Homo sapiens: one gene and its partners. The protein of the gene in region 4 purifies or fractionates together with the protein of the main gene of each other region. This does not show direct contact. Each region holds a gene or a part of one and is shown on either strand. Other genes may lie near its edges. The genes, in order: SCARB2, GBA1, CHM and RAB27B.

Region 1 (8,581 bases), on a different chromosome or scaffold from region 4:
AATACCTGATCCATGGGAAGTACTCTGTAAGTGTATGATTAAATAAAACAAGTAAATTCCAAGACCAAGGCACCCATGAAAATGCTGATCATGCCCCATCCCTGAAGGGCAGGGGTGAGCAGGCTTAGATGAAGTAGGCTGTACTCCTCCTGACATCAACCCCACCAGACGGGCAATGGAGCAAAACTGCTGTCCCCTCCATAGAAAGAAGCAAAACTTACACAAAGTCATCTAATTTTTTGACATAAATGTTGATTTGGAACCTCTTGGCTGCTTTTAGGATTATTCCAGTCAACTGCAAATCAGAGAAGTGAAAAGGAAACATTAGGATTTATTAAACTGCAAACAACTTTTTCAATAGAGCACCATTTCTGTGTAGTCCTCATAAACAAGGTGACCATTACCATGTGTGACAGGCAGAGTGGAAACAAGTAAAAGTGATCCCCAGAACAGAATGAGAACCATGGGTTGTATTAGGTGGCTGATAGACCAGTGTGTCTCAAACATGAGTATGAATGTAGGTCCTTGGGAATCCTGTTAAAATGCAGGCTCTGATTCAGTAGACTGGCCATTTCTAACAAGCTCCCAGGATGCTGCCACTCTGAATAGCACAGCCTTAGAAGGGATCCAACAGGAAGGAGGCCTAAAAGATAGCCTGTCAGGTCTGGATTTCCAGGCAGTTGTCCAGAGAGCTAAGAAGAGGGTGGTGGTCACTGCCAGAGAGTGGCATCCTAGTATAGGGCCCGCCTAGCGTAGCCATGGGGCACAGCTGCAGCACTTGTCATCCTTAGGGCAGCTCCATCTTTGCACTAAGGTTATAAGACTGTGTTCGTCCCTTGGTGACAAGCACTGCTAACAGTTTGGCTGATCCAAGGGAACTGATCAGCTGATGGCTAAGAGAAAAGGGAGAAAACCACACACGATTTTATTCACCAGAGCATAAGATCACTGGTTTCTCAGATACAAATGCAATGTATGCAGCTAAGAGTGTGAAGTACCCATAAAATACTGTGCTAAAAGAATGTTCTTGTTTTTTTTTTTTATTGGTCCATAATGTTCAAATTCCAAAAATGAAGACATGGTTAGCATGGTTTTTGTTTTTCTCGTCTATGAATACAGGAGTAAATGTGTATTATACACACACACACACACACACACACGTGTGTATGTCTCCTCTATGTATATCTGATACCTTTACAATTAATAATATAATAAACTCTCAAATAACCTGTAGAAAGAAGTTTGCCAAAAGTGACTGAGGTTAATATACATATTCATATTTCAACCAAAATATTCCTGGCAGTGAGGAAGCAAAGGGACATCTTTAACCTTATCGATCTGTGTCCCAAGGGGAGAAATAAATATATGTTGAGGTCCAAGGCTAGCATCAGAAGATTGACCAGGTTATATGGGTACATCAGTAGTTTCCAATAACTGAGTTTTCACTGTTGCTTTTTGTTAAAGGCAGGTTTGCTCGTATTTCTGCTATTCAATCCACAAAATTCAGCCTTCTAATTACAGGGCTATGAGACAATGCCTCCATCAGCACTGAGCTGAATTTCTCCCACTTGAATATGTATATGAAAGTAAGGATATTTTTAAAGAAGGCTCAGGACTAAACTGGTGAACAATGTATAGACAGAATAAAACATATGCTCTTTTACCAGGAGGAAGTATGTACTCACAGGATTAATGTCCACAAATGTCTCATGGTCTTCCTGATTTGGGTGCATGCCTTCTATGGCAGAAACAAACCTCTCATCTGCTTGGTAAAAGTGTGGGAAAGACATAATGATGGGTGCACCTGCATTTGAAGGAAAACAGAAATGAATGATGCTGTTTTTAAAATCTAAGCTGAGCTGAATATAAAAGTTCCTGGCCACAGCCTGGTTCCTAAAGAAAAACAAAAAAGCTACATATAAATTAACTTGGGTAGGCTAAAACACCATCCTTTACCTCCTAGTTCAGGATTTATACTTCATTTTCTGACATCTCATTTACCCCCAATTTTTTATTCCACATTATATATTGAAGTTCAGGCTAAATTATTTATTCTTCAACAAATATTTACTGAAGTTAAAGTATAAGTGCTTCATACACATTATTTTATTTAATGCTCCCAACAGCCCAGTAAAGTCAGAACTATTAGCCTCACTTTGCATTTGAAGAAAGTGAGGTTCATAGAAGTTACAAAATTTACCCAGGGACAGCTAGCCATCAGGCTATGAAGGCAGAATACTAAGTGAATGAAGGGTGTTGTACCTCAAAGCACTAGTTTCAACTACAATTCTCTATCAGTAAGTGGACTGACTTTTTATTTCTTGTCCTTTTTAAAATTAAAAAAAAATTTTTGGTGGTTTTTTGTTTTGTTTTGTTTTGTTTTTACCAAAGACAGGCATAATCTCAGCTCACTGCAGCCTCCGCCTCCCAGGTTCAAGCAATTCTCCTGCCTCAGCCTCCCAAGTAGCTGGGACTACAGGCATGCACCACCACACCCGGATAATTTTTTTGTATTTTTAGTAGAGACAGCGTTTCACCATGTTGGCAAGGCTGGTCTTGAACTCCTTACCTCAAGTGATCTGCCCGCCTCAGCCTCCCAAAGTGCTGAGATTACAGGCTTGAGCCACCACACCTGGCCTACATAATTTTTTAAGAGTTAGCCTGGTTGTGCTATACACCCAGCCTCTAACCAGATCACAAAGATTCTGGGGTTTTTCCTTTCCTATTCATTTTAAGAACCAAATAAGTGCTTATGTAAATTTAAATATATATATATATATATATATATATAACCAAATAGGGAAACAAGTTACTAAAGGAAACCTATTCTAGATCTGGCTATTGAAAAGAAGAGAGGGACCCAACAATTGCTGCCAGGGAAATACATTTTTGGAGAAAGGAGCTTGTCGGCAAGTTATTTAAATTTGCTTACATATTCACCAGCCCATGGCTTAAGGAACTCATCCCTCATCTCTCACATGCACATGCATTTTGCTGTTTACTGCTGAATAGTTCCACAAAGGCATGACTTCCTTCTTTGTGACCTATAATGACCTTGAAAATGTATTTTTTAAATCTGTTGAGGGCTTAATAGGGGCTACTGTCCTGAGTGTTTTATATATATTATTTCTAACTCTCACACAACCTCAAGAAGCTATAACCACCTCCATTTTATTAATGAGAAAACTGATGTCTGGAACCCTCCTTAATAAACTTTGGCCAATTTACCAACAAATAGAATAGGACTCAAACCCAATCTGCCTGACTCCAGAACACTCATCCTGCTATCCAAAATGTTTCCCTGGAGAATTCAAAACACTGGAGGATAATCCTGGGGAGTTTCACTTCAGTCCAAATTCGGGAATACGTTAAGAGGGAAGAGGAAAAGGATTGTAGCAAGAAGTTTAAATGTGTAAAGTAGAATACTTCTGTTGATTCTGGCATCAGCTTCTTAAGGAAACAGAATTTAATAAAAACAGCAAGAGAAAATATATCTACATTTTTGCTTTGAGCCAGATGCACACCAGATGAGGGGGCAGGGACACTGTTTCAGGACTATTACCAGTAAGGCAATGGGGGAGATCACAACCAGGAACTTGTTCCCATTCACCCTTGGTCTTTATCTCCAGGTAAAGGGTACCATGTTCCCTTGCACAATGGTCCCCAAATACCTAGACGCCATCTTTATGGAAATCAGCTGGAGTACTTGTTAAAAGTGTAGATTCTGGGGCCCTGGTATATCCAACATGGGACCCTGGGACATACATGCATGTGTGTGCACCATGAGTGTGTGTGCACACTTGCGCACGTGTGTGTGTATACCTATATATATATACTATATACATATATATTAAAATATAGCAAATATAAGTATATGCAAATATATGCATATTTATATATAACTATAAAATTTGTTAATATACTCATATATTAACAAATATATTAACATATACATACATAAATATATACATGTGGCTGTTAAAACTAGTCTTCAAGATGAAAAATACTTTTGTCAGTTGTATATATATATGTATATATACACATATATATGATATACGTATATATAAACAATTTTTTATATATATATAATTTTTTTGTTTTTTGAGACCAGGTCTCACTCTGTTGCCCAGGCTGGAGTGCAGTGTTGCAATCATAGCTCACTGCAGCCTTGAATTCCTACGCTCCAGCCTCAGCCTCCTGGGTATCTGGAACTATAGGTGTATGCTACTATGCCCAGCTAATTTTTAAATTTTTTGTTCAGATGGGGTCTCCCTGTTGCCCATGCAGGTCTAAATTCTTGGCCTCAAGTGAGCCTCCTGCTTCAGCCTCCTAAAGTGTTAGGATTACAGGCATGATCCACCATGCCTCACCAATATATTTTTAATAACTCTCCAGATAATTCTGATGTAAAGCCAGGTGTGGGGGTCACTGCCCTGTCAGACAAGGATCAGGAGGTATACTGCTGACTTCAGACTTATTCCAAAATGATATCTTATTCTTTTTTTTTTTTTCTTTTTTAAAAGATGGAGTCTCGCTATGTTGCCCAGGCTAGAATCAAACTGGGCTCAAACGACCCTTCCACCATAGCCTCCTGAGTAGCTGGGTCTACAGGCACACGCCACCATGCCAGGCCTGAAAGGAGATTTTAAAATGAGATAGATAAGGGAGCAAAAGTGAGCACATTACTATTCAGGAGAAAGGGACTACACAGAGAGCTCTCCAGAGAAATTTTAAAGAGGAATTACAGCCCAAGAGGGAATCACAGGGCAAATATGAGAAGACCCTGAGTTCCGCCAGGGATCTGCTCAGAGGGAGGAGTCGCATCAAAATCACGTTCCCTCTCTGAGCCCTAGTTTCCCCAATTATAAAAACAGGCCGCTGAATGTCTACTATCTAGTAAGTTCATTGTGAATAATTCTGCAACATGTGGCTGTTAAAACTACTCTTCAAGATGAAGAAAATAGTTTTGTCAGTTGTGCCACTGATAATTCTGCCTCATTCATGGAAAGGAGCAGAGTAGCTCTGACATTAAGAAACACTGGGACATTTGTGTCAGGGTTTAAAACTAACTCTGCTTCAAAATCACTGAGAATCTTTGCCATGATACGTACTTTCTTAAAACTGAGTTGTCCACTTTTTCTTTTAGCTTTTTTTTTTTTTTGGTGGGGAGGTGCGGAATCACTCTATTGCCCAGGCTGGAGTGCAGCAGCACAATCATAGCACAGTGCAACCTCGAACTCCTGGGTTCAAGCAATCTCTCTGCCTCAGCCTCCTGAGCAGCTGTAACTACAGGTGTGTGCCGCCACACCCAGCTAATTTTTTAATTTTTTTTTTTTTGTAGAGACAGGGTCTTGCTATGTTGCCCAGGCTGATCTTGAACCCCTGGCCTCAAGCAATCCTCACATCTCGGCCTCTCAAAGTGCTGGGAATACAAGCATGAGCCACCGTGCCCAGCCTTAGCATTGTTTTGAACATGAAATCAGTTAATGTTTTGCATGCATTAACTACATGTAAATATGTAAAGCACTTAGGACAGTGACTGGCATACATCAGGTGCTTAGTAAACATGAGCTATTATTACTGTTAAGACTTCTAAACCACTGTCCAGAAAAAAAAACACAACATGGCATTCTAGAAATAAAAAGCATCACAGAAAAGCCATGATTTTTTTTTACCATTCAATAGCCATGTTATGAAACATTGTTCTTGAAAGAAACTGATCTTTCTATTGGGCTGACAATATATTCTTTTTTGTTTGTTTTGTTTTTTAGAGACAGTGGTCTCGCCATGTTGCCCAGGATGGACTTGAGAACTCCTGGGCTCAAGTGATCATCCCACCTCAGCATCCTTAGTAGCTGGGACTGTAGGTGTGCGCCACTACGCCCAGCTACATATTCTTTGTTGAACTCCAATCCTTCTGCATTCTTGACACCCCTATCATGTCCCCTCTCTGAGTTCTTACCATTCTTGCAGATGCTGACATTCAGAACTCCTGAGCCCAGGCAGTTTCCCTCAGGTATACAGAAGCCGGCATTGTCTGACGTATTGGCTAATATTTCTGCAGGAACTTTATACCGAAAGGCAGGCAGTCCCTGTACACTCTCATAGTCACTGAAAGTAATATACACTGACCTGTTAGGATGTAAGAATAAAAAGTGAATGTGGACTCTGGTCAGTGTAATCTGCCCGAAATCCGCAAGTTAGCAACAGTTCTCAGGTACAACATGGCCAAAAGCTCACAGGGTAAGTAGAAAGGAATGTTTGGAAGGCATTCTGTCAACTCAACGTGTAATAAAGCAGAAGATGAATTGTAGTGGAAGGTGTTTATTGTAGCAACGGTGATATCATCCAAACAAGAAAAAACAATATGTGGTACAAAATTAAGATGATAACATTTAGAATGGAGACTCACATAAAAAAGAAATAAGAGGCCTCTCTAGACCTGCATGGACATATGCCAGTGTGGACGGGCCACCGGCAAAGCCAGGGAAGCCAGGGCACGGCAGAGCCAAAGCTAAGGTAGAACAGGCAGCGATGGCCGTGGCCTCGTAGGGTCTTAGGCACTTGAAAAGTGTCACATTGGACAGATACTTTATTGGAATACACACTTTGATACTCAATCCCCCCCTCCAAGAAAAATCAGATTCCATATTTTGCCCCAGTCATTTATTTAAATGGAGTTCAACGTAATTCTGCCTTTCATTCTTACTGATTTCAAACATAGTCCCATGTAATATGACCACTGCTTACACTGCATAGTGCCTAACCACTTTGATGTACACAGTCACCACTGAGCCTTCAGCCCTTCCTTTGAAGGCTGGCCGGAAGAGCCTTCTGGGCCTCACTTTTTCATCTCTGAACCAGAGCTGTTGATACATCTCTCGCAAGGTTGTGAATAACATAGGTGGTTTCACTGCACAAACCAAACCACCCCTACAGCATTTTTTAATGAAAAATTTTAGGCACCAGAAAGAGATAAAATACTCTAACAAATACCTTTGTATCTGCCACTTAGACAAATAAAAATTATATTATGGATATAACTGAACCTGTCTACGTAATGCTCTTGATTCCATTCCTTCTCTGCCTCCCCTGAGGAAACCACTCTGCTGAAATATGGACAACAGTATCTTTTATTTGGCTTCCATGTAGAGACTACCTATTGACTGGAAGTAGACCAGGTCAGTTGATGCTTGACAGAGCATATCATAGTAACTAAGAGCCAACACTTAATATTGGTTACTGTGTGATGGGCCCTGGGCTAAGTATTTGACTAATACTAACTCATTTGTCCTCATAACAACCTCTAACATAGTTAACAATTTCTATCTTTGTTTTACAAATAAGGAAAGTGAGGTACAGAGTGGTTAAGTAATTTGCCCAAGGTCACACAGCTATAAGTGGTAGAGCCAAGATTCAAACCAACAGTCAGAAGTCTGTGCTGTGAACCAGTACACTATACTGTCTCGATGTGCCATCAGCATTTATCACTGATTATGCATAAATATCCATGCATAATAAGTGTGTCTGCATATATTCCTCATGCTTTTGGTGGTCTTGCAGTGAAAGACCTTATTTTTGAAAAAGAACTTATCTTTAAAGCTTTTACCTGCAAAAGTCAGATGGGAAGACATAAAGGACCTCATCTTTGGTTATTAGTGGGTGAAAAGAATCTCCATCTGTTCCATTAATCATATTGCACTTGTCTGTTATCCACCAGTCAAGTGACCTATAATTGATAAGCACAAGAAAGAGTAAAGATGATCACATTTGAGTTTAGATTCTCTTAAATGGTCAGGACTTTGCAAGATTTAACTGGAGCTGTCTATCCACAGTATCTTATTCATACACAGACACAACAGTTTTAATTAGATCAAGGGGGAGAAAAAGTAGGTCCCTGGCCCAAATCAGCTTTCATAGAGGCAATGGCCAAATAGCCCAAAACATGTGGTGGTTTGAAAAGTATTTGTGCTGTAGCTACTACACATCACTCAATGACTACTAAGCAAGAGTGGGACTTTTCACTGGCCTGTAATTCATGCCTGGCCATGATAAATCTACAAATCACTAATATTTAATCTGTAAGATGTTTTACCACCATCTTGATTTGTAGAATAATAATTACAAGACTATTTACATGTTTTTATATTTTTCATCCAAAAAAGGCTAAACACATTTTTAAGCAATGTAGAAGTAGACATGTAGTTTAAATGAAAACTGAAAAAATAATTCCACTGATAAATCATTTGACTTACGTTTTCCCATTCCATTCCACAATTTTTGTAAAGTTAAGGTAACTGTCTTCTCCAGTTAGAAAAACATAGTCTCCATCATTAGTCCCATTTTTCTGAAAATATGTGAATATGATCATTTAAAGTAACTGTGATAATTTTATGACAACTTGGCTAGACTATGGTGCCCAGTTGTTTGGTCAAACACTAGCCCAGATGGTGTGGTGAAGGTATTTTGTAGGTGTGATTAATATCTACAATCCGTTAACTTTAAGGGAGGTTACCCTCAATAATGAGTGGCTGGGCCCCCTCCAATCTGTTCAAAGCCTTACAAGCAAAAACAGAGGTTT
Region 2 (5,522 bases), on a different chromosome or scaffold from region 4:
CACGCCATGGATATTTCCTCCACAGAAGTACAATGCTGATTATGATCTGTCAGCTCAGCAAGGGGCAGACACCCTGGCCTTCATGTCTCTCCTGGAGGAGAAGTTGATCCCGGTGCTGGTGAGTGTGCCCAGACCTCCCAGCATCCATGGCCAGCCGGGGAGGGGACGGGAACACACAGACCCACACAGAGACTCAGGAGAGCATGGAGGTCAGAAGCCCACCTTGAATCAGACAGGTGCACTGGCTCAGACCTGCCTGTTTCTTCCTGCCCACCCAATCCAGGTACATACTTTTTGGATAGACACCAAGAACTACGTAGAAGTGACCCGGAAGTGGTATGCAGAGGCTATGCCCTTTCCCCTCAACTTCTTCCTGCCTGGCCGCATGCAGCGGCAGTACATGGAACGGCTACAGCTGCTGACTGGGGAGCACAGGCCTGAGGACGAGGAAGAGCTGGAGAAGGAGGTAGCTCTGAGACCGGGGGCTATTGTATGAGATGAGCCCCAAGGATGCTGGCCAGGAATGGGAGTGCTTAGGTGCGGAGGTGGCACTGTTCCCGCAGCTGCAAGCCTACCTGTGTCGCCCCTACAGCTGTACCGAGAGGCTCGGGAGTGTCTGACCCTGCTCTCTCAGCGCCTGGGCTCTCAAAAGTTCTTCTTTGGAGATGCGTGAGTCTGACTCCAAGAGGGTAATGGGTGGCTTGGAAGAAGATACAGGTTCAGATGGAGCAGCTGGAGCTGGGGCTGGGGCTGGGGCTGGCTCAGGCTCTGGATAGGAGGTCCCTGAGACAGATACTGGCCCTGGTGACAGTGGGGCTGTGCGTGGGGCCAGAGCCTTCTCAGAGGTACAAAAGGGTAGGGTGGGAGGGCAGCCAGGCACAGGAAGGGCCTGAAGAGCTGTGGGGCACTGAGTGTGCCCTTTATGCAGCCCTGGGATAGAGCCCTATTCAGGGCCAGGCTGGCGCCACCTGGGGATCTCTCCCCATACCAGGTCTAGAACTGTGTGTCCTGTCCTTCCCTGGTGGCCGCCTGCTGCCCAGAGCCCACCTCCCAAGGCTGACTCTTCCTCCAGCTCCATCTTTACCCCTTCTACCCCAGTGGTTCTCCTCCATCCCACCCTTCTCTCTCTGCTCCAGCCCTGCCTCCTTGGACGCCTTCGTCTTCAGCTACTTGGCCCTGCTGCTGCAGGCAAAGCTGCCCAGTGGGAAGCTGCAGGTCCACCTGCGTGGGCTGCACAACCTCTGTGCCTATTGTACCCACATTCTCAGTCTCTACTTCCCCTGGGATGGAGGTAAGGGGCAGATGGGAGGGGCAGCCCTGGGGAGAGTGGGCAGGGATCCAAGAACTAGTTCTCCTAACACACCTTCCTTCCTTGACCCTCAGCTGAGGTACCACCGCAACGCCAGACACCAGCAGGCCCAGAGACTGAGGAGGAGCCATACCGGCGCCGGAACCAGATCCTATCTGTGCTGGCAGGACTGGCAGCCATGGTGGGCTACGCCTTGCTCAGCGGCATTGTCTCCATCCAGCGGGCAACGCCTGCTCGGGCCCCAGGCACCCGGACCCTGGGCATGGCTGAGGAGGATGAAGAGGAATGATTTGTCCTCACGCTCCCAAGACTGGTTTTTCTACTCTCATGCATTCCAGAGGCCCCCGTGCCTCCTCGTTGTTGGTACAGCCGGACACGGGGTGCTGCCACCCAGAATAAAGCCACTCACACTGACTGGGCTCAAACATTTTCTCCTTTAAGAGCTGCCATTTTTCCTGGCTGGTGCCATAGGAATCATCTGGGTGCCTGGGCACACCCGCTGCTGCTTTAAGGCTTCCGCCCTGATGCTGACACTGCTGCTCCACGGGCCCAGTTCTGCATCTCCAGGAAAGACAAACAGTCTCCAGTTTTGGGCCCAGCTTTCCTAGTCTCTTCTTTTCCTTACCCTCAGCCCTGATCTTGTGTTTGTACGGACAGTGAGCTCACCCTAGGCCTGGACCCAGGCCCAGTTTCCAAAGCAAGCAGCACACAGCGCATGTTCACATAAGCATGGGGGCTGGGGGGACACTGGGGCTTACTGATCTTTTTCTAGGGGCCTCCAGCCCCTGGCACCACCTAGAGGGGAAAGTGAGTCACCCAAACCATTGCCCCTGGGCTTACGTCGCTGTAAGCTCACACTGGCCCTGCTGTGCCCTCTTTAGTCACAGACAGCGTGTGAGCTGACTCTGTCCCTTTAATGCCCAGGCTGAGCCCAGTGCCTCCTTGAGTATCTGCTCCATCACTGGCGACGCCACAGGTAGGTGTGAATGGAGTAGCCAGGTGAGATTGTCTCCAGGAAGCCCACAGCAGGATCCTTGATGGTAAGAGGCACATCCTTAGAGGAGCTAGGGAGCAGGGAGGAGAAGCTGAGAGTGTGATCCTGCCAAGGCCCCCAACGCTGTCTTCAGCCCACTTCCCAGACCTCACCATTGCCCTCACCGGTTTAGCACGACCACAACAGCAGAGCCATCGGGATGCATCAGTGCCACTGCGTCCAGGTCGTTCTTCTGACTGGCAACCAGCCCCACTCTCTGGGAGCCCTCAGGAATGAACTTGCTGAATGTGGGAACAGATGGTCAGAGTCCCTCGGGGTACCTCCCATGAAACCCTCATCTAAGAAGTCACCCACCCACGGACCCACCCCATAACTCCTGCAGAGGCTCTGCCCTGGCTCTCTAGGCCTGGAGCCATGCTGCTGGGCACTGACCCTGCTTTTCTGCATCGCAGTCCAGCCTCAGGCATTGGGGTTTTCTGTTGCTACCTAGTCACTTCCTGCCTCCATGGTGCAAAAGGGGATGGGTGTGCCTCTTCCGAGGTTCCACCCTGAACACCTTCCTGCTCCCTCGTGGTGTAGAGTGATGTAAGCCATCCGATGTAGGAGATGATAGGCCTGGTATGGAATGGGGGTGCCCGCCCTCCACTCACCTGAAGTGGCCAAGGTGGTAGAACATGGGCTGTTTGTAAAACGTGTCCTTGGTGATGTCTACAATGATGGGACTGTCGACAAAGTTACGCACCCAATTGGGTCCTCCTTCGGGGTTCAGGGCAAGGTTCCAGTCGGTCCAGCCGACCACATGGTACAGGAGGTTCTAGGGTAAGGACAAAGGCAAAGAGACAAAGGCGCAACACTGGGGGTCCCCAGAGAGTGTAGGTAAGGGTCACATGTGGGAGAGGCAGCTGTGGGTAGGTCAGCCCTGTGAGGGGCACATTCCTTAGTAGCTAAGGAGTTGGGGGTGTGAAGATCCAGGCATCTCAAGGGGAGCTGAGAAGTCTGAGGCAGCTGCAAGTGCCTCAGTAGTTGCAAAAGGGGCAATGAGGTGTGCAGACCTGTGAAGGAAAGGGAAGATAGGGAATCATGGTTCCCCAGAGTTGCTCAAAAGGGCAGGCTAGCTGGGGAAAGCTGGACAGGAAGGGCTTCTGTCAGTCTTTGGTGAAACTAGTAAGAGGTCTGAGGTCTGCTTTGCAGGAAGGGAGACTGGGGTGGCTTACCGTGATGATGCTGTGGCTGTACTGCATCCCTCGATCCCAGGAGCCTAGCCGCACACTCTGCTCCCAGAACTTGGAGCCCACACAGGCCTCTGAGGCAAAGAGCATGGTGTTGGGGAACAGGCGGTGTGTCTCCCCTAGGGTGGCTTTGGCTGGAGCCAGAAAGTCCAGGTACCAATGTACAGCAATGCCATGAACATATTTAGCTGCTTCTGGGTCTGTCAGTACCTGCAAAGGAAGAGCAACTGATCCTGGACCTTGCACACAGGCTTCTGGAACTTCTAGTTCCTGTTGTAGGAATCCTGGAGTTGGGTGACGGGAAGAATGCAACTAGAGAGGTTTGGGGAGATTTTTTTTTGTTTTTGAGACAGGATGTCACTCTGTCACTCGGGCTGGAGTACAGTGGCGCAATCACGACTCACTGCAGCCTTGACTTCCTAGGGTCAACTGATCCTCCCACATTAGCCTCCTGAGTAGCTGGGACTACACGGGTGCCACACCCAGCTAATTTGTGTGTGTATGTGTGTGTATGTATGTGTGTGTGTGTATATATATATACATATAAACACATATATATGTATATACACATACATACATGAACCACCACCCCCAGCCTAGATAGTTTTGTTTTGTTTTGTTTCGAGATGGAGTCTCGCTCAGCCTCCCAGGCTGGAGTGCAGTGGCGCGATCTCGGCTCACCGCAACCACCATCTCCCGGGTTCAACTGATTCTCCCTTCTCAGCCTCCTGAGTAGCTGGGATTACAGACACCCACCATCATGCCCAGATAATTTTTTTTTTTTGTATTTTAGTAGACACAGGGTTTCAACACGTTGGCCAGGGTGGTCTTAAACTCCTGACCTCAGGTGATCACCCGCCTCGGCTTCCCAAAGTGCTGGGTTTGCATGAGTGAGCCACCTCGCCCAGCCCCTAGAAAGGTTTCAAGCGACAACTGTGGGATCCATGGCACCCTGGAGGTCCAGGGGAATGGTGCTCTAGGAATCCATAGTTGGGTAGAGAAATCGCTCTAAGTTTGGGAGCCAGTCATTTGGATGCTGGATTTGAAGGTCACTGGAGCACCATGGAGGTCCAGGCCTTACCACCTTTGCCCAGTGGGGCAGCAGCAAGCGTTGGTCATCCAGCATGAGTAGGCGGACATTGTGGTGAGTACTGTTGGCGAGGGTAGGACCTAGGTCACGGGCAATGAAGTCTCGCTGATGTTCAGGGGTGAAGCCCAGGCACTGGAAGGGGTATCCACTCAACAGCCCAGCAGAAGGCTCATTTTCAGCTGTCACTGCCCAGAACTGTAACTTGTGCTCAGCATAGGCATCCAGGAACCTGGCAAGAGAAAGGTCATGAATGATCCGGCCAAGAAAGTGGACCAGACCAGCTGGGTGTGGTGGCTCACACCTGTAATCCCAGCACTTTGGGAAGCCGAGGCAGGTGGATCACTTGAGTTCAGGAGTTCGAGAACAGCCTGGCGAAACCCCGTCTCTACTAAAAATAGAAAAATCAGCTGGGCCTGGTGGCAGGCGCCTATAATCCCAGCTACTTGGAAGGCTGAGGCAGGAGAATTGCTTGAACTCAGGAGGCAGAGGTTACAGTGAGTGAAGATGGCGCCACAGCACTCCAGCCTGGGTGACAGAGAGAGAGACTCCTTCTCAAAAAAAAAAAAAAGAAGAAAAATAAAAAGAAAGTGGGCCAGACCGAGAGAACAGGAAGCCTGATGGAGTGGGCAAGATTGACAGGCCCAAGGCTGAAAGGCCCAGAAGGTAGAAAGGTGAGCTGAGGACAGGCAGATCTGGAAGTGGAACTAGGTTGAGGGTTGGGACACAGATCAGCATGGCTAAATGGGAGGCCAGTCCTGATCCCACATCCTTGCTGATCCCTTACTTCACAAAGTATCTGGCCCAGGTCTGGTGGTAGATGTCTCCGGGCTGTCCCTTGAGTGACCCCTTCCCATTCACCGCTCCATTGGTCTTGAGCCAAGTGGGTGATGTCCAGGGGCT
Region 3 (8,581 bases), on a different chromosome or scaffold from region 4:
GGCCCTGAGGGTTTTGGATAAGAATCTATAGTCTTACACAAAGCCAGGTAGTTATAAGAAGAAATCAGTCCAGTGAACCTCCCTACCCCATCAAAAAAAGAAAAAAATATTTGTGATGCATTTACACTGAAAAAGTCAAATTATAAGGTACTTCTGTAATTCTAGAAGTCTGGGTTTATATGAGATATGTCTTTCTCAAAAAGTGAAGATGATGATTATTGCTGGCATGTATGGGAGAAATTGATTTAATCTTTCAACATCTCATAAGTAATATCAGAGAGATAAAATCAATAATGTAAACAGTATTATCTAGCATGTTAACCGTATGGTTAAATGCAACAGATTTGACTATTTCCTATATTAAGATACTCTTAATGCCTATAACTCAATAAATATTAAAAATGAATGTTACATCTATAATAAATAAATGGGAAAATTAGCTTTACTATACAAAGAAAAAGGAATCTCAAAAATCAATCTAAACCATTAGTCTGAGCAACTAATAAGTCAGTAAAGACTATCAGTAAATCAATACCATTCAAGTAAAATTTTATAAACTAATAGTTCAGCATTCTGCAAAACAAAATTGACATCACTTTTTTGAAGCTAATCTGATCATCCTGATTAAATATGGCACGTTACTTCATTACCCTCTTCCTAACACACTACATTACTGAAAGAGACCATGTTTTAAAGAATATATTGCCAATTCTTAACTCTATAATAATGATAAAAAATAGTTACTTCAAAAATCACTTGTTTAAAAAGATACACATTTGAGACTCAAGGATCCCTGCATAGCCATAATAATGTCACAAACATTAAGATATAAAATATGAAACTGCATTTTTATTTAATAAGATCCAATAAACCTTAAGGTTTAATGCCAGCTTGAAAAATAATGCATTTAAGATATCACAAGAACAAAAACAAATTTCAATTAAAATTATACTAGATTTTTGTTTCTGAAGCTCACAAATAATAAATGTGTACATATCAGAATCTAAGCCTCTTTTTCTTTTTTTTTTATTGAGACAGAGTCTCTCTGCTGCTCAGGCTGGAGTGCAGTGGCTCAATCTCAGCTCACTGCAACCTCTGTCTCCTAGGTTCAAGCGATTCTCCTGCCTCAGCCTCCCGAGTAGCTGGCATTACAGGAATGCAATGCCACGCCCAGCTAATTTTTTGTATTTTTAGTAGCACACAGGGTTTCACCATGTTGGTCAGGCTGGTCTCGAACTCCTGACCTTAGGTGATCCGCCCGCTTCAGCCTCCCAAAGTGCTGGGATTACAGGACTGAGCCACCACGCTCAGCCTAAGCCTCTTTTTCACTACCCTCTAAGCGATCTACCACAGTGATGAGGGGCTAAAGAGCAGTGCAATTTGATTACAATAATGGAAATTAGATTTATTAATTAACAATTTTTCCTTAGCATGTTGGTTCCATAATTATTAAGAGTATGGACTTACTTAGAAATGAGCTTTCATTTTAAGAATTTCATCTTTGACCTTCTCTATTAGTCTGAGCAGTATGACACTATACGTATTTTATTTAACTAACCTACCTTGAGCTATTACTTTTTAAAAGGCTATATACATGAATGTGTATTGTCAACTGTAAAGCCCCACAGTATTTAATTATATCATGATGTCTTTGAGGTTGAACGCATATAGAAATGTCAACTAGTTTGGAGATACTGAGTTGGACTTTAGAAAAGAGGTAGGTCTTTGGACGAGCACGGTGGCTCACGCCTGTAATCCCAGTACTTTGGAGGGCCAAGGCAGGCAGGTCACGGGGTCAAGAGATCGAGACCATCCTGGCCAACATGGTGAAACCCCATCTCTACTAAAAATACAAAAATTAGCCAGGCATAGTGGCACGCGCCTGTAGTCCTAGCTACTCAGGGGGCTGAGGCAGGAGAATCACTTGAACCCAGGAGACGGAGGTTGCAGTGAGCAGAGATGGCGCCACTGCACTCCAGCCTGGCAACAGAGCAAGACTCTGTCTCAAAAAAAAAAAAAAAAAAAAAAAAGGAGGTAGGGCTTTAGGGCTTTAAGATAGATATTTGGCAATCATCCTAAACTTAGACGTTTATTAACTGCAATTATTAGAACAGATAAAATTTCTAAGGAGTGACCAATTGCCCCAATAACATGGAATACATTGCTTTCCATCTAGCATGCACTGAATATGTATTAAATGACTTAACATTTTAAAAACGGAAAATTAATCTCCTGTATTACTATGGTTATATGTGATTAAGATACTTCTGGTTTTGAAAATGAGTACATTAAATGTTTATTAGTTATTTTGTAGAACGTATGAACCCATGAAACTCTGCAGGACGCAGTCCCAACTGCCTAGTCCACTGCCTCTAGACATGTTTGGTTTTTACTTACCATAAGAGAACTGGTTATTACTAACCATTCAAACCGATGAAAATACCCAGAAGTCTCCTTCAGGGTATCTTCAAATGTGTCAACTTCTAATTCAATTGTCTTTTTCCTCCCACAACCAGCATTCATTTTCTTATACAACTGAATAATTTTCTACACCAATTCCTACAATTGAAACAGCACCGTCTTCTACCATTTCCCTTTGCAAGATATATACTAAATTTCAGCTAACATAAAAGTTACAGACTTTTATGAAATAGCCTTGATTCTTAACCACATTTATATCATCATTTATTTAGGTAAAACATTCCAAATTCCAAGTAATTACTTCAAAATGGAATTGTCACACAAAGCCCATTTGTTATTTGACTTGTTCAGTTTTTATGTTTTGTTTAACCTATTTCATAGAGTACTGCTCATGGGACCAGGAAGGTTATTAGTGAGCTAGGATTAAACTTCCATCCACAGATGAACAGCCAAGGTAATGTGGAAAAAATGCTAGATTTCAAATCATGACAGGGTCAAAGTAGATGGAGGTGGGAGAGATAGTACGGAAGTATGAAGTAGAACCAATGCAATAGCCAACTATGCAAAATCAGACACAGAGTGCTACATGACAGACAGAAAGAAAAATGGGTAGTAAAAAGATATTTATATTTTCAGGCATCAAGTTCAAAGGGAGCAAGAGTATGAGGATATGGGATTTGCAGAAACAACTTGTCAAGGGAAATGTTTTGGTCCCTCTCTGTCCCCTATCACTTGGAACTTGAAGAAAGTACATTAAATTGAAAAGCCTAGTTCTGTGCTAGTTCTGTGGCAAGTCTTGTGCTATTCACTATCCTCTCCTACTTCTTTTCAATTACTTATTGTTAGCTCTCAACTTATAGGATTTAGTCTGTTTTTCTCTACTTTTACCCTGTCCTGTATCATGACCCTTTAAGGCCATAATCCTTTATCTTACTGATTTTCTATTCTTTTGCACTAAAAATAGTCTTGCTTCCTATAAACCAAATGCAATATTGTACGCTTCTAAGATGGAGGGACCTCCTGTGAAGTTACAGTGAACTAACATTCAAGTTAGTTATGTTCAGGAACATAACCGAAGACAATAGCTTTCTTCCCAGCCTTCCTGCCTCCATCACTATTAAATTTTCCTCTGAAGCTTTCAAACCTGAACACATGATTTTTTTGAGACTTTTTTCTTAAATTATACTTTAAGTTCTGGGATACATGTGCAGAAAGTGCAGATTTGTTACATAGGTATACACACGCCATGGTGTTTTGCTGCACCCATCAACCCGTCATCTACATACCCGTCATCTACATACCCATCATCTACATAAGTATTTCTCCTAATGCTATCCCTTCCCTAACCCCCAACCCCGACAGGCCCTGGTGTGTGATGTTCCCCTCGCTGTGTCCATGTGAACACGATTTTTAAAAATTCATTGGTTTATTCTGAGTATTCATCATCATACAGTTGTGAAAATAGTTACTATACATAAAGGCTAAAAGAATCGATGGAAATTGACTGTAAATAACATGGATTTCTAAACAGGTTCATTAGAATTTTTCTTTTGATAGAATTCATAGTGTCCAGAGAATATTAGGTTGTAGTATGTGCTCAAGCACAAAAGTATTCTTCAGGTATAGATTAAAAACATAATTAAAGCATTTTCATGTGAGCACTTTAAATATGTTTTTAATTTGTACTTAAGGAATATTTTAAATGAATTACAAACATCTGGCTACTATCTCTTTACAAAACAAATGTTCTGCATCTCAGAGAATTACAAAAACTGGGTTTATGGGCCCAGATACTGTTTTCAATGCAAAGATGGGTAAAATTAGTACTTACCTTTGATACTAAATCAATATTAAATCTCCTGCCTTCTTTAATAATTTGTGAGTAAGTAATTCTGTTTTTCTTTGGTTGCTCTGTGGTATCTTCTGCTATAGGCACATTTTCACTCATGTCTTCTGCTGAAGTTGATGGCACACAAGTTTTATCATCACAATGGTTTTCTTTTTCCCCTGTCACTTCAGCACCATTTACTTCTAGCGCATTCTCTGGATCGCTGCTTGGAGTTTGTTCTGTGAGCATTTCACAGCTCATAGTGCTTAATGACTCATCCTCCGTAGGCAGGAAGGCAGAATCTGCAGCTTCTGTGGAGTTTGCAGATGTCACAAGAGCATGATTTTTCTGCAGTGCACCAGCTTCTTCGACATCTTCATGCAAATCCTGACTAATAAGAAATATAATAATAAACACCAGGCTTTATATATATATTCCCTTACCCCTTTTATCAAGTTCAGTGTACGTTTTGCTTATGTGACTCAGACATTAAACATTCATCTGTTAATGTTTCAGTAAAATATGAAACAAAATTAAGATTTGAAAGATATAAAGATTTCATGTCACATGCACATTTTTGAGAATTTAAGACAGACAGGGGAACTGTATTGGAAGCAAATTACCACAGTGATGAAGAACACAGTCTTCAGAATAACAGATCTTGGTTCAAACCCTGACCATATGACTAGTAAGCTCTGCGAACTTAGATACTTATGTATCCTCTCTGAGACCACCTAAATTACCCTCAATTTAGGTAATTACCTAAATTACCCTCTCTGAGACCACCTAAATTACCCATCTATGACACAGAGATAATACCACCTACCACAAGGTTGTTTTGAAGATTAAATTAAGTACTGCATGCAAAGAGCCTGACACAGTGCCTGGGACATAGTAAATACTCAACAGTGGTAGTTATCAAAGATGATTATTACTGAGGAATTCCTGACTTGGTGATACGACAGAAGACCTTCAATAAAGGGAAAAATATCTGCCTTGAAAAGATTAAGTTGGCCTATCACAATGTGGTATCTAATAGGACCTTTCTGTATAATTTCCTGCCTATTTTAGTACTGATGTCTATTACTCTAGTCGAAGCCCCATTTCCAAATTTATTATTGGAGCTAACATTCTCAGTCCACCATTGTCTTGATTTATAGAACAGGCTCCCATTCAGTCTGCCTGCTTTATGAATTTCTGTGATATTTTATCCTCCACAGAACCCACTATTTTCACTGAGTTGCCACACTGCTCAATACCTGGCAGAATGCCTTGTATGTGATTGGTCTTGGCAAGTAAAAATCTGCTAGTTGACTAACAGTAGCCCTAACAGTAGCCCTTCCTTATATCAAATACCCCACAAAAAAATCTTCCTTTTCCTGTCTCTAAACCAAACCACCTTCCTTATTTACTAATCTTCTGGTTTCATCTCCACCTACTTTCCAACATGGCATCTCTAACTCCGAATTTATCAATTCTAATTGTCAAATCATGACAGTTTGGTTCATATCATTTGTTTCTTCTGTCCTTTTCTTCCCACTCTGCATAATATCACAATTCTTCCATTCTCAAACATAATCACATACTTTAGCAAACTACTTTAAGAAAAAGTTTAAATTTAACTTCCAATTAGTCTTCCTTACTCCAATTACACTCATCACTCTATTATACCATGCTCCCATAATACACATATGCAGTTTACCTTGCATGTATTTATCCATTCCTTTTTAATAGTCCTTTAGTTTTCCAGTATATCCTTTATCTTCCAAATCAGACTGTAATTCCTTGAGGGAATACCTTAGCACCGCTCCTTCTGTGCCCCTCACGACACCTACCACACTGCTCCATAGATGTGGTATCCAATAAATGCTTAATTAATAATGGTTTATACGTGCAGACTATTTTTGTTTCAAATGCGAAACAAACTTGTTGCAAAAAACACAAAAAATAAGGCCAAGAAAAAAACACGGTATTGTAAATTAGAAAGTCCGAGTTAAGTGAAAAAAAGAAGTGCCTTATTAAAAATAACACAATGAACACTACAAAAAAAAATGAGGGACAATGATAGAATAACACTCAAATGTCAAGAAATAAAATGCCATATTTACTGTTATAGTAATTCTAATAAAATCTAGTGAAGAAACAAATTGATATCATTAATGTTACATGAATATTTTTGAGATCTAGGAAACCAAAGTGAGGAAAACACCCACTTTGTTCTATCCTAGATTTATCACTTAGGAAACACTTGGCAAGTCATTTAATCTCTCTGATTCACCACATATAAAATGGGGATCAGTCCATTTGCCTTACCTTTTATGAAACTGTTGTGAGATAAGGAAGCTAACATATATGAAAAGTAGTTTATAAACTCTAAAAGGTTAATCAAAGATAAGATACTAATCAGGCCGGGCACGGTGGCTTACACCTGTAATCCCAGCACTGTGGTAGGCCGAGGTGGGTGGATCACTTGAGGTCAAGAGTTCAAGACCAGCCTGACCAACATGGTGAAACCTAGTCTCTACTAAAATGCAAAAATTAGCTGGGCGTGGTGATGGGCACCTGTAATCTCAGCTACTTGGGAGGCTGAGGCCAGAGAATCACTTGAACCCAGGAGGCGGAGGTAGCAGTGAGCCAAGATCGTCCCATTGCACTCCAGCCTGGGCAACAAGAGCAAAACTCCGTCTAAAAAAAAAAAAAAAAAACTACTCAAAAATAAGATATTGTTAAACTGCCCACAGCTCAACAGTCAACTCAAAACCTGTATACCTAGGTTTTCTGCATTCACATGACAAAAGCCCATTGGCCATATAAGCACATAATAGCATCGCTATTAACAGCATTAAGAATGAAGAGTCATAATATGAAAGGTGATTTATATATTTTCTACAGAATTGTTCACACTCTTATTCACTTTTATTATCTTGAAAACCAACAAAACTAAAGTGTGTTACATGAGGGATCTAAGGGGACAATTTTCAGCAAAAGTTCCACACCTAATTTTTTGTTTTTCAGTAAAAGTTCCATGCCTAACTCTTAAAGCAAAAGTTCCATGCCTTTAATTTTAAGAAAGGATAATTAATTACACTTTACAGATAAGACAAAATATGGCAACTTCTCTTATTACAGACTATGATGATGACACTGTGAAAACTGAGCATAGCAAATGATCTAGTCAGTGGTTCTCTATTACATTCTGTGATGGGGGCCCTATAGAGTGAATGAAATACATTAACCAGTACTGGACAACCTGGAAGATATAAGTCAAAATACTTAATTAAAGGTATAAGCGAAGAGAAGAAATTATTCTTCGGAAATTTTTTCTACATCAATAAACTATCGTTTTACTGTTCTCAACATTATAATTTGGTGAGATTCCTAGCACTACGGAAAACACAAGCAATAAAAACACAACACTGTCCTCACTTTCCATTAAAAACAACCACAGTATTTTTGGAGTTCTGCCAAGGTTGAAGTTAATACCTAATGAGAAAATATAAAGACACCCAAAAGCTCCTAAAACTCCACTGACATCCTCAGAAAGCAAAATTCTGTTCATCTAAAAGGGTTATCTTTCCCCAAATTTAAAACTTTATACTGTGGTAAAAGACATTTTCTTAAAAAGATATTCAACCTTTCAGAGAAAACCTCAGAATCCAGTAATAGTTCAATTCTACTAATTTAAAAGTGTTTGAAAACTATAAAAACACATTTACCAATTACAAAACAATGTAGCTGCATTATAAGCCTTCAAATGAACCTTGGAGTTCTAAGATATTACAATGATTTTAACATACACAGGTGCTCCTCGACTTATGATGGGGTTACGTCCTGATAAACCCAATATAGTAAGACAAAGTGCATTTAATACCCCAATAAAACCATTACAAAGTTGAAAAATCATTAAGTCGAACCATCTTAAGCTGCAGACTGTTTATCTAAAGGAAAACAATCTGCATCATTAGTTCTTATAAAAATGTTCACTATCAAAATTGATTTCACAAATTAAATTTAGTGTCATTTACATTGCTAGCTTTAATTCCAAAGGTCATTTATAATGTAACAATATTTTTTAGATAATTTTTCTTAATAAAAACTGCTTAACACTGCTTTTTGTAAATGCATTTTTCACTAATTGCCAAAATTCATATACTACTCTGAGAGTTTGGAGGTATATATTCTGATATCATCTAGTACTGCTTCCCAATTAATAGTAATAACAAAGAAACACCTCAAAGTAAATGTGTCTTATGAATACCTTGTAACAGCCTTTTAGAGGAATCAAATGAAAAACTGAGGAACAGGTGTTTAATTTATTCAGCACAGGTGTTC
Region 4 (8,770 bases):
ATGATGTCCTCTAGGTGCCCCAGATTCATATATGCAAAAGCCCAAGCTGATAATTCCACTTGGATGTTGAAAAACGCTTCAAAAGGCTGCAAATAAATTCTTCATTTCCCATTAAAACCATTTCTTCCCTAGTTTTATCCATCTTAGGAAATGGCCTTCTGTCTACCCAGTGTCTTCAGTAGGAATCCTGTTGATCATTTGGTTCTTTCTTTTCTTCACCTCCACCTTTATCCAATTTATTAGTAAGTTCTGTCAGCTCTGCCTTCAAGTGTTTCCTGAATCTATCTACTTCTCTTGGTGGCCACTGTTCTGACCCTAATCTTTGCCACTGTTGTAGTTGGTCTACTGGAATAGCCTCCTAACTGGATTCTCTTCTACTCTGGTCACCCTACGACTTAGTCTCTTCAAGGAAGCCAGAGTGATCTTTTAAAAACATCACCTGGCCAGGCGCGGTGGCTCACATCTGTAATCCCAGCACTTTGGGAGGCCAAGGTAGGCAGATCATGAGGTCAGCAGATCGAGATTATCCCGACCAACATGGTGAAACCCCGTCTCAACTAAAAATAGAAAAATTAGCTGGGCATGGTGGTGCATGCCTGTAGTCCCAGCTATTCAGGAGGCTGAGGCAGGAGAATCACCTGAACCCGGGATGTGGAGGTTGCAGTGAGCCAAGATCGTGCCAGGGCACTCCAGCCTGCCAACAGAGCAAGACTCTGTCTCAGTTAAAAAAAAAGAAAAAAAAAATCACCTCCCCTGAGGCTTTTCTTGACCACCGAATCACACAGTCCCCTTCAGGTCACTCTCATTGTATTACCCTTTAACATTTTTTCTTCTTAGTATCACTAAAAGTTCCAGAATTACTAATTTGTTTATTTACTTATCCGTCTCTTTCCAAACCCCAGATATAATGTCCATGACAGCAGAGGCCTCGTATATCTCACTAACATCTGTTATCCACAGGGCTTAGACGAATATTAAAGTTCATAGTATGCTCAGTAAATATTTATTGAAAAATGTTCAACGGGCTATATCTAAATCATAGTGTTTTGTCATTTTACTTGGAATAAAAAACAAAGGCCAACATGTTCATTAGGACCTTCAAAGTCCTCCAAGACCTGTCCCCATTATCTCCTCTCCCCCATTTCTTGCTACCCCCATCTCACTCCCTCTGTGCCAGGTTCATGGGCTTCTTTGCTGTTCCTGAAAGATGCCAGAATGCTTCAATCTAGAATGCTCTTCCTCCACATATCTACATGGATCATTCCATTACTTGCCTCTGATTGATATTAAAATATCATCTCAGTGAGGCTTTTCCTGGGCATCTGATCTAGAATTTCAGTCCTCCCTGACACCGGCCACTGACACTTTCTGCATGCCTCCTCGGCTTTATACTCTCTGCTGAGCACTTCTTGCTACTGTGCCATAGACTCACCCTGCTTATCTAGGTTGGTCTTTGTCTCCCTGGTAAAAGATAAGCTCTACAAGGTCAGGAATTTTGGTCCACTTCTGTCCACACAGAGCCCTGAACAGTGCATAACACTCTTACCAAATATTTGTTGAACAAATGAACAAGCAACTTAATTATCTCAATATATTGAGCAGTTGTTTAGTTAAAAAGACAAAATTTATTTAAGATTTTTTTGGCCATTTGATAAACAGAGTGTTACTCTCCTTATTGGCAATCTAGACAAGTTTGTCTTATTTAAGGAGTGCCAATGGGAGGTTAATATTTGGAGAACATGAATAATGATTGCAAAGGGTGTGAAAGAAATTGAGTAATACTATCAACTCCATATTTGGGGTTTACAATAGGTATGTTATTATGCATAGTGATGTTGCTGCTTGCTACTTCTATAGTATATACTTAAGCCCATATATACCTAATAATGAATTTAAAAAAAAAATCATTCCCATTTGGCAGCCATCTTTAGAAAGTGACATATTCTTCATGGGAAACACCTGATTTGTCCTGTCTGTTTTTATTGAAATCATTTCCTTGCATCTCAACATTACAATTACTTGCTTAAGAGCTGAACTATTGGTCAACCTGCCTTGATGAATCAACTGAAGAAACTGGATTGTGAGATGAGTTTTATATGAGTAATTGTTCTATATTTCATGCCGTACTGATCTGAGAGCCCAAAAACCTAACCAAAAATTTGCAGGAGTGAGGGTGGGAAAAGAGCAGGTTTCTATTCTGAACTACCTGGACATTTGGATAACTTCCATTTTTCCAGAAAAACAGTGAAATAAATGAACAGCAATTCTGAAACCAACATACAGTTGTAGTGTAAACTGGCATACCAACTGATCTTCTACCAAGAAGATCAATTATATTAGGGTTACCTTCCCTATTGGGTCAAACATGCCTGTTCCAGAAATGACCTATGAGAAAGGGGAACTGTGGTTTGCTTACATTCAACAGATTCCCTTTATCCCTTCTTGGCAACTATGAGAACAGGCTCATCCAGTTTTATCTGCTATGTTTTGTTTTCCTTTCGAAAGCAATGACAGTAACACTGTATGAGAGGCCATAGTCAATTCTGAAACAGAAAAGCTCCATTAATATTAAACTATCTGTCAAGATTACCCCTTTTTGGTCATTGGTAGGAATCACCTCTTGCCTTCAAGGATGGCTGACCCCATCTGGGTAGAGGATTATGCTAGGAAACTATGAAAAATAACTATTTGAGGGGCAATGGCACATGACAGGTATGTCTCTCTCTTCATCACTGCAATATGGACTTTACAGCAGCTTGAAAATTCATTAAACTTAAATATCTGAGTTTATATTAATGCTTAAGTCTATCCTTTCCCTCAACTTTTCAAAATTTATAACCATAAAACCCTGTATATTCTATATATGAATGAATATGTGTGAATATAACTAAATATTGAGAACTGTAGACATTTTTCTTATAAACAGAACAAAATCAAAATTCAGAGCTGTATTATATTAAACAATAATTTTGTTGTTAATAACCTTGAAATTTATGTTATTACTTTGGGCTTAATTTAATGATGTGCAGTTTAAAACAACTGGAATTACATACCCTTAGCTTTACATCTTGACATAAAAAACTCACAAAACATGATACAGGTGTGAAGGCTCTAACCAAACACAGCTTTTTCCTAGGAATGCAGTCTCTGCTTACAGTTCACCTACTTCAGTAGTTTTCAGAGGCTTAATTAATGTTGCATTGGGTGGGAAAGTCTTGAAAGCTAATTTATTGTGATCAGTTGGGTGAACACACATGCACACATATACCCTAGTTGGTGCAACACTTAGATCAGAATTCGAAAGTAACAGAGCAAAAAATTGGAAAACAGAAAGTACTCTTAAGGTCTCTGTGGCTATTTCATCTAAGGAAGTGCATATAAATGTCTTATTGCTCTCCTGGCTTGCCTCACTAAGTCGCTCCTCCTGGAATGAAACTCTGAGCACATCATCATCCATGCTTTTTCTTATTCATTATTTTGATTGTTTTTTGAGATGCAAATGAAAGGAAATTGGCATTGCTGTGCCTAGGCTTTTTGTTTTTCTTTTTGCTTTTTTTGGTGGTAACCAGCTGTTTGATAAGCAAACACTCAAGGAGAGCCAGGTCGAGTTGGCCCATGCCATCCGTGCAGCACACAGCACTACTGTCTTCTTTGCAAGGATTTCTGCTGGAAACCGCGATCGAAGGTGCACACGCACTCACACATGCACACACACACACACAGAGGCCTCACTTCCCACGGCGCAGGCCGGCGCTGCAGCACCCGGGTGGGTGGGAACGCGTTCCAGCAGCAGCAGCCCGCCTTCCCAACTCACCAGCCTGCGAAGTTTCCTTGCCGGGAGAGCAGGTGTCAGATTTCAGAGAGGTTTCCTTCCCCTTCCCAAGCCCTGGAACTCCCGGGCTCCACCGTCAGCAAGGAGACAGGATCTGCTCCACAGGGCGATGAGCACGGGGACAGCTACTTATCTCCTCCAACCTGTGGCTCCGGATGGGTCCAAGGCCGGGCGGTCCGCAGCCCCTGCCCGTCAGGACTGCGAGTGGCAGGGCTGGTGGCACCACCCTCGGAGTCCGCCGCGGCGGCGGGGCTGGGTAAGGTTTGTGTGAGAAGAAGGCGTGTCTGCAAGTCCCAACGCGGATGTGCGGAGCTCACCTCAGGCAAGTCTTGCTGGTGACTCAACTGCTGCAGTGAGAAACACACTCCTCTCGGGGATGAAGTCTCCACACTGTGGGGCTTCTAGCCTTACCAGCGAGCTCATTTTTATTCATTTTTGTTCTGTGTTTTCTTTGATGTCTCTCATTCAAAGAGCCCAGGGCGCTGTGAGAACTGGGGCCCTGACATTGCGTTCTCTCCTCCGAGGGGGTGTCTCATTAACTATGAGGAGTGAAGGCGAGGGATTGCGAGTGGGGAGCAGAGGATGGCCTCGGGAAATAAAAGAGGGCGTTGGAAAGAAATTAATATTTTAAAAGTTAGGATGTGTTCGTATGAATGCATTAATCAGTATGCAACATCCAAATTCACTTCCCAAAGCCCTAATTCACTTCCTAAAGTCACTTCAGAGATCAATAGGTTACCACTAAGTAAGATAATGAGCACACGGAGGCATTGAACCAGTATTTGTTAAGCACCTACTATGTGCTATGCCGTGTTCTAAACACATTAGATTCGTCCACAAAGCAAAGATCCTGGCTGCCCATCTTGGGATTCCATTTTAGACACATTCAGACATCCCTAATTTACAGACTGGTAGTAAAGGTAAGAATACAAGGTTAGGTACATTATAATAACAACCGATTTACTCCTCTGTGAACAAAATTTAAAAGTTCCAAACCTGTGTCTTGCATTCATGTTAGTAAACAACGAGATGCCAATGACTGCTTGAATTTTAATTACTTAACTTGTTTCTTATTCGATGCCCTAGAGACAATCTGGGAGGCACTGCTGTTATCAGCTCCCAGAGAATTTCTTGTAGAAGGGAGCAAAGGAATAGCCCAAACCAAAACACAAAACAAACAATAGCAAACTAGTGGAAAAATGGAATATTAGAGAAAACATTTTGGTCTCATAGAAATCTGTCTATTCTATTATGAAACTATTAAAGAAGTTCTATTTTATGTCCTTCAATGTTCTTGAAAGTTGAAAAGAAGAGTAATAATAATGTCTTCATAGTGTTATTGTGAAGAATTGACTTCATATCAGTAATGTGTGTAGAACGTGCCTGGCACAGTAAGTTCTATGAATGTGTTGGCTATACTTATAATTTTGGTAACAATCTATTCCATTCTCCCCAAGTAAGATCCAGTTCCTAAAAATTATTTTGGATCTACTGCATAAAAGTCTTTGAGGCTCAGCCTGTAGATTTTCAAAGTATGTATGCTTGGAATCTATATTTATGATAAATCTACTTTGCATTTAACAGCAATATCTAAGTATATAAGAAGTGTGTGTCCATGGGCCCAGACAGAAATAAAAGAAAGAACATAAGAGCCTTGAATCTTTTCCACTGTTAACACATTGACTTAAAATCACCCTCTGTGCTATACAATGATAACCCATATTCTTTATCTAGTTCATGTGTTCACTACTGACATTAGTCCTAATAGCTATTATTTCCTGTATGCAATAGAGTTTCATCTCATTTGGCTTTCACAACATTACTGTGAAATAGGCAAGGCGTCTATTATATTTATTGTCTCCATTTTCAGAATGAGGTAACTGAGGTTGAGAAAGTCGCAGTAAATCTGTCCAAAGTGATGAAGTTCAAAAGGTGGAAGACAGGTCTATTGATCCTGAATGCCGAGCTCACAGTGGTCACTGTGTTGTACTACCTCACTGCAACTTCTAGAAAAGGTTCCTGCCATAAGAAAATCTGACACACACATTTATTGATGACTCTCCTTGCCACCTTTCCCTAGATAAGTGTGTCACCTGCTTTATAGGGCCAACTCTTGCAGGGATAGCTCTCCTGGAGTGACTTGCCACATATGGTCCTGTCTCCGAGGTTCCAAGGCTCAGATTCAGTAGTGTTACATAGTGACACTACCAGAGAGTGGTGGAACATTTCCTTCCCTGGGAAGAGGGGTTCCAAGGAAGAGAAAGAGTAGGAAGACATAAGAGAAATGTTGCTTGGCCACTCCATGAAGGCCACTTTGACCAGAGGTAGAGCAGAATAAAAAACAGTGGAAAACCAGTGAAAACAAGGTGACAGCATTGTGTGTCATGATAATAATAGTAATAACATCTTCCTGTACCTGGAGTTTATGTAGCATAACTTAAGTAGACATAACATCTGTCTAATTCAATCAATATGGCACTGAGGTAAACATTAATGTACATGGGGTGATGTGTAGTTACAAATGGCAAGATTATCACATGTATTTCATCTCTCCTCAAACTGCTTTATTACAAGAATAAATGAATTTTTTTAAATGTTATTGAATCACAAAGACAAATAAGCAGATAAAATAACACATAAACTTGTAATGAATTTTGGAAGAAGCTAAATCAGATGCAGGCGTGGTAACTGATTTGGAAGAGCAGAGGATTCTATACACTGCATGCCTGCAGGAGAGATTATGGTAAAAAGCAAGCCAATTCTTCCTGCAAAACCTGGGCAGGCTCAGGCCTAGGAGGCAGAAATCTCAGCATAGAAGGAGGCCAGGTGGTGGGGTAAACACAGGGGTTTGGTTATACGTCTGTATATTGGAATGCTTGGACCCAGAGTTCCCTTCCCCACTGTCACACAATCAACCAACCATAAGTTCCTCCATCTGCTCAATCCAGCTTCCAGGAGACTGGAGGTTTATTTTCTGGAGAAAGTAAACTAGAGTAATTTGTGGTTCAACAAGATGAACTGAACACATGCCTTTTTACCCTGCTCCTAGAGATAATGAATAAAAAAGAAATTTATATACAAAACAGGAAAAAAATCTTTTGAAATTGAAAATATACTCAACATTTACAAAAAAACTGACAGATGGGTTAGAAGACTAAGTTGAAAAATCTATTTAGCTGCAGAAAATTTTCAAAAAATGGAAAAAAATTCTGACTAATGGAAATCTCAGAAAGCTCTAGAAAAGACTTCTTTCTATGCAGAAAAGGATAAAAACACTAATTTGAAAACAATGCAAAAACAATACCAGAAATGAAGATGATGAACTTTGGAGATCGAAAGTTTCACTAAACGTCCAGGAAAACAATCCTTTAAATTAATCAAATAATTAAACTCATCGAAATATATCATTCTGAGATAAAATAAATGCAGGAATAAAGAGAAAAACCTAAAACATCTTCCAGAGACATAAAGCAGATCACATACAAGGAAAAAAAATTGCATTGGATTTCTCAAGAGCAATAATGGATCCAGAAGTTTCTTTGAATGCCTTCACATTTTTTAAATGAAATTATTTTGAACTTAGAATTGTATATCAAGACAAACTGTCAGCCAAGCTTGATTTTAAAAAATTTTCAGATATGCAAGGACTTAAAAAATATACATCCTGTGTGCCATTTTAAAGTAACAGTTCCCCAAACAAGCTTATAAATCAAGAAAGAGGAAGAGATGAAACCCCAAAAATGCAGGCCCAACATAAGAGGCAGTAAAATAAATTCTCCAGAGCAATAAGTGTGAAGCAGGCCTAAAGAGAGGTGAACAGATGGCTTGCAGTAGGAATGTCTCCAAGAAAAAAAAAAATGGAAAGAAAATGATAGATTGTTTGATACACATGTGCATTTGAAAATACAGTAGATAGCGGGAAGTGCCCGCCAGATTCCATGTTCTGCTCTTTTTCCTGAGCACCACACTAGATTTCATTTCTTAGCCCCTTGCAGGTGGGGAGGCATGTCACTGAGGTCTGGTTCATGGATTGTGGGCAGAAGTCATGTACATCGCTTCCAGGGTATGCCCATAAAATAACCCCTGAGATCCTCCACACTTCCCCTCTTCCCTTACTAGTGCGCAGATGCGAAGAACCAACGAAGAGCTCTAAGCCCCTAGAAGACATGAAAGCCCCTAGATGAAAAGTCATGAACCTGAATTAGGGTGTGACATGGCTACCTCAGCTGCCACACATTGGACTACCACATGAGCTAGAAGTAAACTTGTATTGTATGATGCCACGAAGATTTTTTAGAGTTGTTACCACAGTTAGATCACTCTGTTACAGTCTTAAAGATCAGTCAGAGGCAATTGTGAATAATATACAATAGGTACGGAGTGTGCTGAACTAATTTTAAAAGGATATTATTAACTCCATGAGAAACAAAAAGTTGCAAGAAAAAAGAAACATTATGATAGAATACCACTTTGTTCAGATCTGGACATAATAAAAATATTGGGAATGCCAACAAGAGAATTAACCCTAACCTACAATAAAACTACATGTGGAGGATGGCAGAGGGAAAGACTATCTGTGTATATGTGCAGAGAAGACAGCTAAACCCTCAATCATCATAACAAAAATCAATAAATAATGTGTAAAGTTGCTAAATAAAGAAATAGCAGGATAGGCAAACCAATTAGACATATAAAAGTACAAAAGCTGCTAAAGAGTCAAATGTTTGCCTGTGGGGATTAAGACCAGGGCTTAGGAGGCGATCTGCACTGTTCCACAAGAACTGTAGATTTTGATTTTGTTTTAAATTATGAGATGTATTACCTTAATAAAAATAAAGTTAATTTTAAATTACCCTTAAAATACACATAAGGAAACAAAAGATATTTGTTCTATAGAGAAAACACTATGCTTTATTAAAGTATTTGCATATACTTTAA

What was found.
Region 1: the proteins of RAB27B (region 4) and SCARB2 purify together in Homo sapiens (affinity purification with mass spectrometry; 2 studies listed by BioGRID and IntAct, with this or other methods). This does not show direct contact.
Region 2: the proteins of RAB27B (region 4) and GBA1 purify together in Homo sapiens (co-immunoprecipitation; 3 studies listed by BioGRID and IntAct, with this or other methods). This does not show direct contact.
Region 3: the proteins of RAB27B (region 4) and CHM purify together in Homo sapiens (co-immunoprecipitation; 3 studies listed by BioGRID and IntAct, with this or other methods). This does not show direct contact.

Annotation. Positions count from the first base shown.
Region 1 is NC_000004.12:76,168,182-76,176,762, forward strand, and holds part of SCARB2 (lysosome membrane protein 2), read right to left. Parts: intron 8,348-8,581; coding exon 8,256-8,347; intron 7,730-8,255; coding exon 7,610-7,729; intron 6,133-7,609; coding exon 5,963-6,132; intron 1,805-5,962; coding exon 1,686-1,804; intron 296-1,685; coding exon 222-295; intron 1-221.
Region 2 is NC_000001.11:155,232,728-155,238,249, forward strand, and holds the end of GBA1 (lysosomal acid glucosylceramidase isoform 1 precursor), read right to left. Parts: coding exon 5,407-5,522; intron 4,852-5,406; coding exon 4,614-4,851; intron 3,743-4,613; coding exon 3,518-3,742; intron 3,118-3,517; coding exon 2,954-3,117; intron 2,585-2,953; coding exon 2,468-2,584; intron 2,374-2,467; coding exon 2,268-2,373; 3' UTR 1,725-2,267; downstream 1-1,724. UniProt on the Homo sapiens protein: Glucosylceramidase that catalyzes, within the lysosomal compartment, the hydrolysis of glucosylceramides/GlcCers (such as beta-D-glucosyl-(1<->1')-N-acylsphing-4-enine) into free ceramides (such as N-acylsphing-4-enine) and glucose.
Region 3 is NC_000023.11:85,959,413-85,967,993, forward strand, and holds part of CHM (rab proteins geranylgeranyltransferase component A 1), read right to left. Parts: intron 4,641-8,581; coding exon 4,253-4,640; intron 1-4,252. UniProt on the Homo sapiens protein: Substrate-binding subunit of the Rab geranylgeranyltransferase (GGTase) complex.
Region 4 is NC_000018.10:54,823,745-54,832,514, reverse strand, and holds the start of RAB27B (ras-related protein Rab-27B), read right to left. Parts: upstream 4,039-8,770; 5' UTR 3,815-4,038; intron 1-3,814. UniProt on the Homo sapiens protein: Small GTPase which cycles between active GTP-bound and inactive GDP-bound states. In its active state, binds to a variety of effector proteins to regulate homeostasis of late endocytic pathway, including endosomal positioning, maturation and secretion.